Regions from separate parts of the Homo sapiens genome. Here region 2 is linked to region 1. A link means that fine-mapping ties the variant in region 1 to the expression of a gene that starts in the linked region. Tissue or cell type: left ventricle. Region 1 holds a variant in brackets; the other region holds the start of a gene. All regions are shown on one strand. Distances are between the middles of the regions.

Region 1 (5,392 bases):
GAGGCGGAGGTTGCAGTGAGCCGAGATCGTGCCACTGCACTCCAGCCTGGGCAACAAAGAGCAAAACTCCGTCTAAAAAAAAAGGTGAAAAATAGTAACTTAGCTTAAAGATGATCTGCTGGTGGCCTCAGAGTTTGTTTTTAGCCAGAGAGTGCCTACAGGTTTTGAACACTATTTCATCTAGTATATCATTCATTGGGGTAGGCTTCCTAGTCATTAGTCCTATCTTACACAGCTGGCCAAACAGGTGCTGAAGGGCAATGTCAACAACAGAACCCAGGAATCCTGGTTCAGGTGTAAGTACCGTATCCACTCAGCAAGGCTCATAATTTAGATTTAATTAACAATGTGGACATCTGTTTAGAATAACAAGGTAGGAATTCAAAACCTAGCTGCTGGTTATTTACCCATTCAAGTGAAAACAGACAGAGGGAGGCACAGTTGCAAAAGACCTGATTTCCTTTTTAAAATTATCTTTCTTCTCTACCTACATGTAGCCAGATGTCATAGACTAAGTCAATAACTAAATTCCTCCTGAAGTGACTGGAACGCTGAGAAGGGACCGGTCTATCTCAGAGTCACTTTGGTGATGCTGGTGGGTGTGACATCTAGCAATCAGAACCCAGCCAATGACTCACAGGAGATCCCACCTGTACTTTGTTAGGGATGGTCTCCCCAAGGATAATAGAAACTGATTTTAAGATAAAAACAATAAAATTCTTCAATAAAAAGCACAAAATTCAGTCCAAGAGCAGGGGGCTTATGAAATGCACAAATTAAAGTATTAAGAATTAAAATAATTAAATTAAAAAGCTGAGGCCCCAGATTTCACCCTGATGGTTGAGGTGTCCAGCATTGGAACTGGCTGCACCATGGTTTTGGGACTCCATCAAGGACTGTGGCCAAAAACCTGTGTGGAATATTGTAGAAGGAATTTCTCCACATACAGTGCTCCACCCTCTACATCAGCTTGTTAAAAAGGAAGGCTCCTGGGCTTCGACCAGGAATACCGACTAGGAATGTCTCCAGGCGAGCCCAGGAATCTGCTGGTGACTCTTCACATGCTAAAGTTTGAGAACTGCCGGGTGACTGCCCTGCATGGTGAGCTTGATTGAACGCTGGCTAAGGTTTCTTTCCACCTGGGCAATCTCTAACTCTAGGAGTTGATCCAGGATACTTTCACTTCCTTCATCATTTTTGAAATGCTTGTTTTTCAAAAAGCCAAATTCTTCTTTGCATCCATGATTCCCACATTTAGCTTTCTCTGCATCTGGCCTAACCCCACCTATAAAACAGGCATAGGAACTGTATTTAATAAGCACCTCCTTCAATAACACAGATGAGCAAAATGCATTCCTCAGTGTGACCCGCATATTCCATTTCCTGCTCTGTCTTGCTTATTTCTAAGAAACAAGAGTATGATGAGAGAGCCATCCCAGCCTTGCAAACACATCTGTCACTGTCTTCTGGGTGTCAGAATGAGGAAAGGGGCACAGAAAGGAGGTTGCAGAGGACGGGTCAGGGCTGTCCAAGAAGGGAGGCAGCTGGGCAGCTGGTTACAGGTGCAGCTGGTGCCACATGGCAATCTGCCGGCGAGGGTTTTTGAGCATCTCCTCCCAGTGGCTGCGCTCAGAGCCCGAGGTGTGCAGGCCCAGGCTGCAGTGGCCAAGCGCACAGCTCTGCCCTGAATCGTCCTGGCCCAGCACTTCCAGCTCCACACTGGAGGCCTGCAGCAGGTCGTCAGGCAGCTCAAACATGATCATCTCGTTCCACACGGGGTTGATCTTGTGCTTAGCTCGTTTAGTCTGCTTCTTCTTCAGCTTCCGAGCCTGGTGCTTCAAGGTCACCTTGACAGAGACATCTGGGGAGGGGCAGAGGGGAAAAAGAGACAGAGAGAAGGGACAAGAGTGAGTTTCTGGGATCTGGCAGGGCCCAGGACAAAGCTCCCTCCTGGTGCTGGAAAGATGCTCAAGAGTTCGGACATCTGTGCCCCATATACCCAAACATCTTAGAGGCCTCAGTTTTTCCTTCTGGATACCCCAGCACAGGTCCCAAGTCTATGTGACCATAGAAGGCTCTGCTATACCAGCAGGAAAGCATCCCACCCGGACAATCTATAACTCTAGGAGTCGATCCAGGATGCTTTCATTTCCTTGCATTGGGGATTATTCTCCACTCCCCCACTAGGCCATGCATTCATTCAACAAATATTAAGTGCCTACCCTATGGCAGGCACTGGTCTAGAAGTGGGGATGCAGCAGAAGTTCTTGCCTCCATAGAACTGACACTAAAGTGTAGGAAACGGCCAATACCATGATATAGAAGGCTGGCCACTGGGTGGCCTGTGATTGGGGCATGTTAGAGTACCAAGAGGGAACCACCTTTGCTACATGACTTCATATCCTCACATCAAACCAGGTCCATGACAACAGCTCAGGGGTCCTGCAGCTGGATTTTAAACTCAGACCAGAAAAATGAAGCCAGCTCCCAACTCTTCATCCCCTTGATTCTTGGTGTAAGCATGTTTGTCTGTTATCAAAATAGGAGATCCCCTGCTGGTTGGTTGAGTTCTTCTCATCCGTACTTTTTAAAGTTTTATTTGAAGACCCCCAACTTCATGTGGAAGAGGGATGAAGGCAGACTGCCTGTTCCTGCACGCTCCCCCAAACCCAGGGCACTGCACCAAGAGAGCTGGCCCCAAGGAAATCCACAAACAGGTCACCAGGCGAGCTTTCATGTCACATCACAAGGCTGGACTGGATTACTTAGTCAATGTTTCCAAAGCTAATGTGAGAATAATTGTTACTTTGTATTTATTGCTGTAATTATCACCTCTGGGAGGTTAGTTTGTTATTTCTACAGAGAGAGTTGAGAGACGAAGTGTTGTACTGTAATTGTCCTGACAGGAGCTATAAAAGAGAGCAAGAAGCAAAGAATTGTCTAAAGGGAATGAGATAAAAGCATTGAACTTTGACCTTTGACTCAGGAACCTGCCAGCAAGACCAACTCTTCTGATTCCATTAGCCCCAAGTCTTTTGCTCGAAATTCAGAATGCAGTGGCAATTCTTTATTTGTACCCTGCTATAAATAGAGACTTATTTATATCTTGCTAGG[C/T]GCATGTGGCTTCCAGTCCAGGTATTATCTGGCTAGCTGAGGATGCTTTCCTGCTCATATAGGAGAGCTTGTTTTGGTCTCCGAGATGCTGGACCTGGGCTGGGGTATCCAGAAGGAAAAACTGAGGCTTCCAGGGTGTTGCAGAAAAGCTTATTTGGGTATATGGGGCACAGACGCCTGAAGCCTCAGGCCTCAGCCCATGTACCCACACACCTTCTGCCATCACCCACACTCAGCTGGTGTGAGGGTGGCAGTTGGCAAAGGCTGAGAAGAGAGAAGAGACTGGGGTGGGTGGCAGGAGTGCAGTGGTGGTGAGTTCAGACAGGAGGGGAATAACCTGGCCTTCCTGACATCTGCCTGAAAGGTGGGTCCAGCCAGGTGTGGGTGACAAGGGCTGGGCCAAGTTTTCCCGACAGCCCAGGCCCTTCACTCCACGGCTATAGTCTGACCCTTGGCTTCTTGTGCTCTGTGGTTAGGGCTGATGGTTCTCATAGTGGATCTCCAAGGTAGGGAACCCCAGGTAGCTCACACTGGGGTCCTAATGGATGGGATTGATCCAAGAGTAAATGGATGGGAACTCATAGAAGTGAGTGTGTCCTCGAAAATCAATTTGTGAACTTAGGGTGAAGAACACCGCTGAGCATGGCTCCGTAGATGTGCTCATATTCCACCTCCCTGCTTACCTGTGACCATTTCCTCCCAGGCACCACCTCCCTCAGCACACACTCCCGGTAGCTGGAGGGGCCTTGGCCATCCTCTCACATCTCACTCACCCTTCCCCAGGAGCTCCTTGGACTGGTTAGAGTGGAGGTTCTTGGCTTTAATCAGCACCACCAGGAGGCGGTTGGCAGCCGGGAGGTAGCTGATGGATAGTAGGACCTCTCCAGCTCCTGCAGATGGCTCCTGAAACAGAAAAGGAGATGCAGGAGGGGAGTCTCACCTGGGGACGCCTTCCAACCCATCAACAAATGCTGAAGCTGGAACCATGCTGGATTTGCATCCAACACGCATCCTTGAAACCATTTACCCGTCAATGCTGGGGTGTCCACCCTTGCAGAAGAGAGCAAGGCACAGAGGAATTCCATGCGGCATGCGCTTCAATAGCAGTTTCTTTGTTTGCCTCAAAATGTGATTTTTCATATACCATATACTCAAATCCAACATACAAAACAGAACAAAGAAAGGCTACTCAGAATGCAGCAGCGGGGAGGAGGCCAGAATTCCCCATTACCCTTCACCTTCTGCCACCCCCAAGCTCCTGGGACACCTCTGTCCTCTAGGGCCTCAGAGAACAGTTTCAGAATCCCTGCATGGACCCATCAGGTTCCTGGGGCAGCGGGAGAATTGTAATTCATTACTATGTTTGAAAAGATAGTTCTTTCCAGCTCCAGGAGGTTGCTTCATCAACAGAATGACAAGTAATGTCAATGAAGTGCTGGGGTGTATGATGGTAGATCATGCCCAGAGGCAACTGGCAATAACCACACCTTGAAGGAGGTGCTGATGCCCCTGTGAGGCATCCAAACAAACACATCTATCCCTGCACGCAGCTTTAGAGTAACTCTCCTGAAATTCGTACAGGAGTTTATTTGGAATTTCAACAAATCCGTCAAGGGACAAGAATGACCGAAAGACCCCTCCTAGGAGGTGGGTGTTTGGTTGCAATCCAAGCTCTGGGGAGACCTGGCAGGAAAGAGAAGGGAGTGTGTGGGCAGGGATCAGCTGAAGGTCAGAAGTCTCCTCTGTTGAGCAGGAAGAAGATGCCCTTCCCTCGAAATCCCAAGGAAGAGGCAGATGTGTGGCCTGCTGTGCCAAGATGGAGTGGGGAGTGGGAGTGGGGGAAGGCCCCATGGAAGCTTGTCCCTCCAGATGTCACAGCTTTCAGTCCTGTGGCCCTTCCCTCCAGCTTTGTCCCTCTTTCCCAGCTGTGCAATGAGGGTAATTCAATGAGGTCTGGTACCAGGCTGGAGCCCTGGCTAACAGCCACCGTGACTCCCTAAGCTTCCTCCCCTTCTGTCACACCCAGGATGTCTGTTCATCCATCCTGGACCAGGCACTCAGAAGGGTTGAAATCGGTTTTTCTTTGCTCACTGTGGCCTCTAGTGGATTCATTCATTCAGCAAGCATATGCAATGCACCTACTATATTCCAGATGCCATAATTAAAGCCATGAACTAAACAGAATCAGTCTCAAAGAAGCTTGCAGTCACATGGGGAAGACAGAAAGGAAGTGATTAAATATATAACATCGGGCAGCATTAAATGCTATGAAGAAATA
Region 2 (5,392 bases), 41 kb after region 1:
TTTTATGTGTCAGTAGGCAAAATCCTCCCTGAGACTTTAAATGGAAAAAGACCTGAAGGATGAGAAGGAGCCATTTGTATGAAAGGCCAGAGAAAAATGAAGGGGCAGAAAAGGGCTTGGTGTTTTAAAAGAATGATCGTAAATCCAGGGAAGCCAAGACTGCTGATGAAGAAAGAAACTGGCATGAGCTTGGCTGGAGAGGCAGGCACCTTCCATGTTAAAGCAGGTGAGTGGGTGGAGAGGAGTGGCTAATAGTGTGGCCACCAGAATCAGACAAGCTCAGCTAGAGTCTGGCTCTAAAACTTCTCTAGCTGTGCAGCTCTAGGCAAGTCAGTTACCTTCTCTAAGCCTCAGTTTCCTCATCTTTAAGTTAGGATCATTCTATGGCTCCCTCACTGGGTCAAGAAACACATTAATTAGTGTACTCTGAACAGTGCGCCTGGCACACAGTGTATGCTATGTCATGGTTTGCTATGACCTCTTCCAAGCTCAGTGAGAAGTTGTGGAGGATTTGAAGCAGGGGAGAGACACAACCTGGTTTTTCTTTAACAGATGATCAGCCGTTCTGTGGGCTACTGGTCATCAATAAGACAAAGAGTTGGAAGAGACCCTAGAGGTCATTTACACCAACTAGTTTCCCAGTGGTTCTCTCTAGGAAGGGGAGGGGGCGGTGCCTGGAGAGACATCACTGAAAGGCAGAAGAGTGGCTGTTCCTCAAGTGTGTTGGGCAGGAAAGAAGGTTGAGAGGCGGCCGACCACGACTTGTGGAGAAGGACTCCCAACACCTGGCCAGTGGAAAGCCCACTATTCCCCTTTTCCAGATCGTCCCAAGTCCCACATTCTGCTGTGCAGCCGGCTCCTATTTAGCCACTGTCAATGTCACTGTTCTTGGATTATAAGTGCCTCAAGGACAGCAGCCATTTCCTTTCCACTCTCACTGTACAGTGACTGACACAGGCCCCACACAACTGGGTCCTCTGAGCTTTTGAATTATTGATTGGAAAAAGGAAGATGGAGTCACAGCATTTTAGTGCCACTCCTGGAACCATACAGTCTATAAGGGATCTAGAGGGCCTTTAGGAGGTCCTTTAAGTCATGCCCCTGCCCCAGGGCCATCCTTCCTCAAATCACTCTAGCAGGACTCTTTGCCTCCTGGTTCTCCAGAGAACATTCTGCATTCTGTACTTTGGAAATGCATCCTGGAGGTCACAGCCTATGCAGGGAAATCCTTCCAAACTGCTTCCCCAGACCCCTTCTGCTGCTCTTTACAATGGGAGCACGGGCTATTTCCTGCACGAAGGGGCTCTGGCCATGAGCAAATGCATGGGATAAAAGCCCTCCTGTCTCCAGGGACGTCTGCAGAGACATCTTGGGGGAGGCCATACCAACCCCCTCTGACTGGCTGGAGCTCAGAGCTGCTAGGGGGTGGGGAAGAGTCCTTCAGGTTCCTCCCGGATTCAGCTCTCTAGACCCCGCTAGCTAGCTTCCCAGCTCCTGCGGGACCGCGGCCACCTCCCCTCTGGCTTTGCAGGCATTACCTCTTCTCAGCTCTGGCAGGACTTGCCCTACCCTGGCTCCACAACCACCACCCATCTCCCTCTCACAGACCCCAGTCTTCTTCCCAATTCTGCAAACTCCTCATTCTCTGGTACCTCTCAGGGTCTTCCCTAACCCTGGCGATTCCCCTCCCAGCCTCCCTCTCCTCTTACCCTTCCCAGCCCTAATTCTTATCCAGGTCCCCTTTCCTGTCCCCTCCCTTTAGGTCTCGCTGCTGGCCCCCATTCTTCTCTCAGTCCCCACAAGCTCGCCGCTCCCTAATTCTCCTTCAGGTCTCGTCTCCCCCATCCCCTAGCCTCCCCCATCCCCCTACCTTTTTGACTCCTTGACCTGTCCTCCAACGCGTCTGCTGTCCCCTCCCCGCCAAGCTTTGTCGCGCAAAGATCCACGACCGCCTCCCACCCCAGTTCCCCCTCTGCAGCTGCCCGGCAACCCCGCCTTGCCCGGGAAGGGCCTGCGCGCCGCCCCCGCTCACCTGTTGTGCAGACCCGAGCAAGCTGGGCTTCGCCTTCTCCAGGTCGGGGTCCTGGTCCCGCGGCAGCAGCCCCTTCTTGGGGTGCATGTGCCGACACAGGCAGGTGACCCCGCACAACGCGAGGATGCTGGTGGCTGTGCCCAGCGTGGCGCCCAGCGCGATCACAGGCACCGACAGCACCATGGTGCCCGCTCCCGGCGAGGGGCTGGGTCCCGCAGCCGCTCACCTTCCCCGGGCCGGGCCCGCCTCCAGGCAGCTCCCGGGATCCGGGCGAGCCAGCAGCTCTCCCGCCGCCAGAGGGGCGGGGACGGAGGGAGGGAGGACGGCTGCGAGGACGTCAGAGGAGGCTGGACCCGCAGCCACGTCAACCGGCAACCCCCTCCCCGCCAACACGTGACCGGACCCCCACCCCAACAGGAGCCGGAGCCTTCCAGGTGGAAGGAGCCTTGGGGTTGTTTCAGGCCATTCTTAATGCTTTGTGTACAACAGGGGACAACTGGGCCCAAGAAGTGCTGGAGCTTGCGGAGGTCACACTGTGTTAGAGGACAAACCTGGGCTCCAACCAGATCTGCGACTCTAGGAGTCACTTTCCCAGACTACTAGCTCCTTGCTCACCCTTCTACCCCAGCAGCTGGCCAAGCTGGCTGTAAAATTGGGTCTTCCGGGAGCTTTTTCAAACACAAAGCTGGAGATTTCCCAGCTCCCCAACCTGGGAGATGGTTCTTACAGGGAAGAGGAACAGGCCACAGGTAGAGGGAACAGATGGGATGTTTGGGTTGAGGCTGTACCTGTGTCCTGCTGAAGATGGACAATACAGCTGCATCCCCTTAAGGGTTGCCCAAGAGTTCACCTTTATTACCTAATCAGCAGGTATTCGCACCTTTATATATAGTTGAGGAAGCCGAGGCTCAGAAGAGAGGTGCACAGGTAGAAAAATCATCACCCTGAACCCAAGCTTATGTTTGCAGATTCCAAGTCCACACTCAAACGGACTTGTCTTAGGAGGATAAAGAAGATAAAATGCAGCAGCTAGGAGTACACACTTGATTCAGAGAGGGTGAGCATAAAACTATGCTTAGAACAAGGGGAAATTAGAATTCCGGGCATGAGGACTGTCTTAGCTCAAGAAAACAGTGGCTTTTTAGTGTTCTTCATTATATGGAGTGTTGAATTTAATTCAGCAGATATTTGCTGTGGGTTGGCTGTGCTCTAGGTGTGCTGGGCATGTGTGAAAAGGGATGTAGGTGATTTCATCCACAACAGAGCTTTCACATTTCTATGAGCCAATGTCTCCTAAATCTATAGCCTCTCCAGCCAGACCTTTTCCTCTGAGCTGTAGCTGTGACCACCACCTGGGAACCCACCCGTCCTCCAGTTTTTCAGCTATCTACACTTGCATAAAAACCCACCGATGACTTACTGGCTTAGACCAGTTATTGTGTTACTTGTCATGATTTCATGGGTTGGCTGGGCTCAGTTGGGTGGTTTTCCTGCTCAACATGTTGTCTTCTGGGACTGCAGTCATCTAGGGGTTCAGCTGGACTGGGACATCAGCTCTCCAGACACCATTGCAGATGGTGCAATGGTGAACTCACGTGGTGAGCAGTAGGTGCTGGCTGCCACTGGGATCACAATGGGGCTGTCAGCTGGTGCATTTTGGTTGTCCTCTATGTCACCTCTCCATGGTGCTGGAGCTGCTCACAGCATGCTGGCTGGATTCTAAGAGGAATGAAGCAGAAGCTGCCAGTTGTCTTAAGGCCTGGGTTCAGAAATTCTAGAACACTATTTGATCAAAACAATAGTCTCCCTCTAGTTCTTTCCTTCAGTGACATCAAAAGGAGGTGTCCAAAATACAAAGCTGATCATGTCACTCACAGCTCTCAAAGGTTCTCCAAGAATAAACCCAAGAGACTCAACCTTTATCCAAATCCCTTTGTGATGTGGTCCCTGCTAAGCCTTCCAGACTCCTCTCTACACACTTCCCAATGTGCCCCTGAGCCTCAGCCACCCCATGGACTTGGGATTCCTTCAACAAGCTAACATCTTTAGAGTCTCCATGTTATCACCCATGGGTGCATATAGCAGGCACTCAGTAACCGTGGAATAATTCATATGATCATCTTATGCAGAATTTCCAGTGTTTTGAAGGAATCCCATTTGTGATATGAGCTCCATTTTAGTAAACTGACTTTTCCACAAGTATTTATTGTGTGCCTGCTGTATGCCAGGCACATTTTCCTACTGATCCCCATTTGCTGCAAACTGTAGAGCTGAAGCACTGCAGTCCCTGGTGACAGCCTTAGCAATCTCTCACATAAGAGCTGCCCTGGGAGGTTTTCTTGGCTCCGGGCCTGGCAATGCAAAATGTTTTGTGGAAATAGAGGTTTAATTAATGCTGTCAGCTCCAGGTCTCCCATGCTCAAACGGCTGCCCTGGGAGACCATCAATGCCACTACTCATAACAGGATCTGGGGTGGGGTTAAAGGGGAAGGATGAAGAACACTTAATATCAGAAAATGTCTGATGGGGAATCAGACACCTGTCACATGATCCATTGTTACTATGGTTACTGGGATGACAGCAGCTGCAGTGGCCTTCATTTATAACAGGAAGAGGGACCCCAGCCCAAGAAGAAGAGCTTGCCTTGTGCCTCTTTCACACACAGTGAACCTATGGCAGAGCTAGGAATAGACCCCAGGGGATCCAAAGCCCAGTTGAGTGATCAGGACTCTGGGCTACCTTTGCTACCCAACCAGTCACCCTCATATATCTCATCAAAGATACGATGTTTGCTTCTTGGCTACTGATATGCAGACAGTGGCCTTTAATGACAACCCACAGAAAAAAGGCATCACTAGGTTCCTTTGAAAAATGAGAGTATGCCTATTGGGAAAGGCAGTTAACTGAGTCAGCTGAGTGGATCAGTTAAGACAGTCTGAGGCTGGGACCCACAAATAATTGGAAGTGCTGAGGCCACATTTCTAAGAGCAGACAGAGCAAGATGCTTAGGAGGCATCTACGAGGCTGAGGGATGGATCTTTGAAGGTTCCCCAGCCTCTTGATGAAATGTTCCCATTGTTATTTTGATCAATATTGTACATGTTAGATGTTTAAATATTCTGAATAATCACTCTGAACTTCTAAGGTACTAAAATGCTTTTATCTGGAGAAAAGGATTTCAAATATAGGAGGTTCTCTTATTTAGCAAACATTTGTGGTGTCTACATATGGTGCTATGCAGGAGGGAGGAAAATATACCAGCGGAATAACTGAATTTTAACATTGCAACGATTTCAGATATCACCTGTGGAATCCTTTTATTTTACCAATAAGGAAACGGAGATTCAGAGACATCATGGC

What was found. PIP is the estimated chance that this variant, and not a neighbour inherited with it, causes the effect.
Region 2: SYT13 starts here. The variant in region 1 is fine-mapped to the expression of SYT13 in left ventricle (GTEx, PIP 0.98).

Annotation. Positions count from the first base shown.
Region 1 is chr11:45,242,496-45,247,887 of GRCh38, forward strand. It overlaps SYT13 (synaptotagmin 13), which reads right to left. Exons shown (of 6, transcript NM_020826.3): 5 at 3,888-4,017; 6 at 1-1,861. The coding sequence ends at 1,557. Among named protein-coding and RNA genes, the nearest start is that of SYT13, 41 kb to the right of the region's middle. RefSeq lists an enhancer at 1,136-1,636. The variant C/T (reference allele first, on the strand shown) is at 3,115.
Region 2 is chr11:45,283,993-45,289,384 of GRCh38, forward strand. It overlaps SYT13 (synaptotagmin 13), which reads right to left and starts at 2,349. Exons shown (of 6, transcript NM_020826.3): 1 at 2,033-2,349. The coding sequence starts at 2,215. RefSeq lists an enhancer at 1,744-2,530.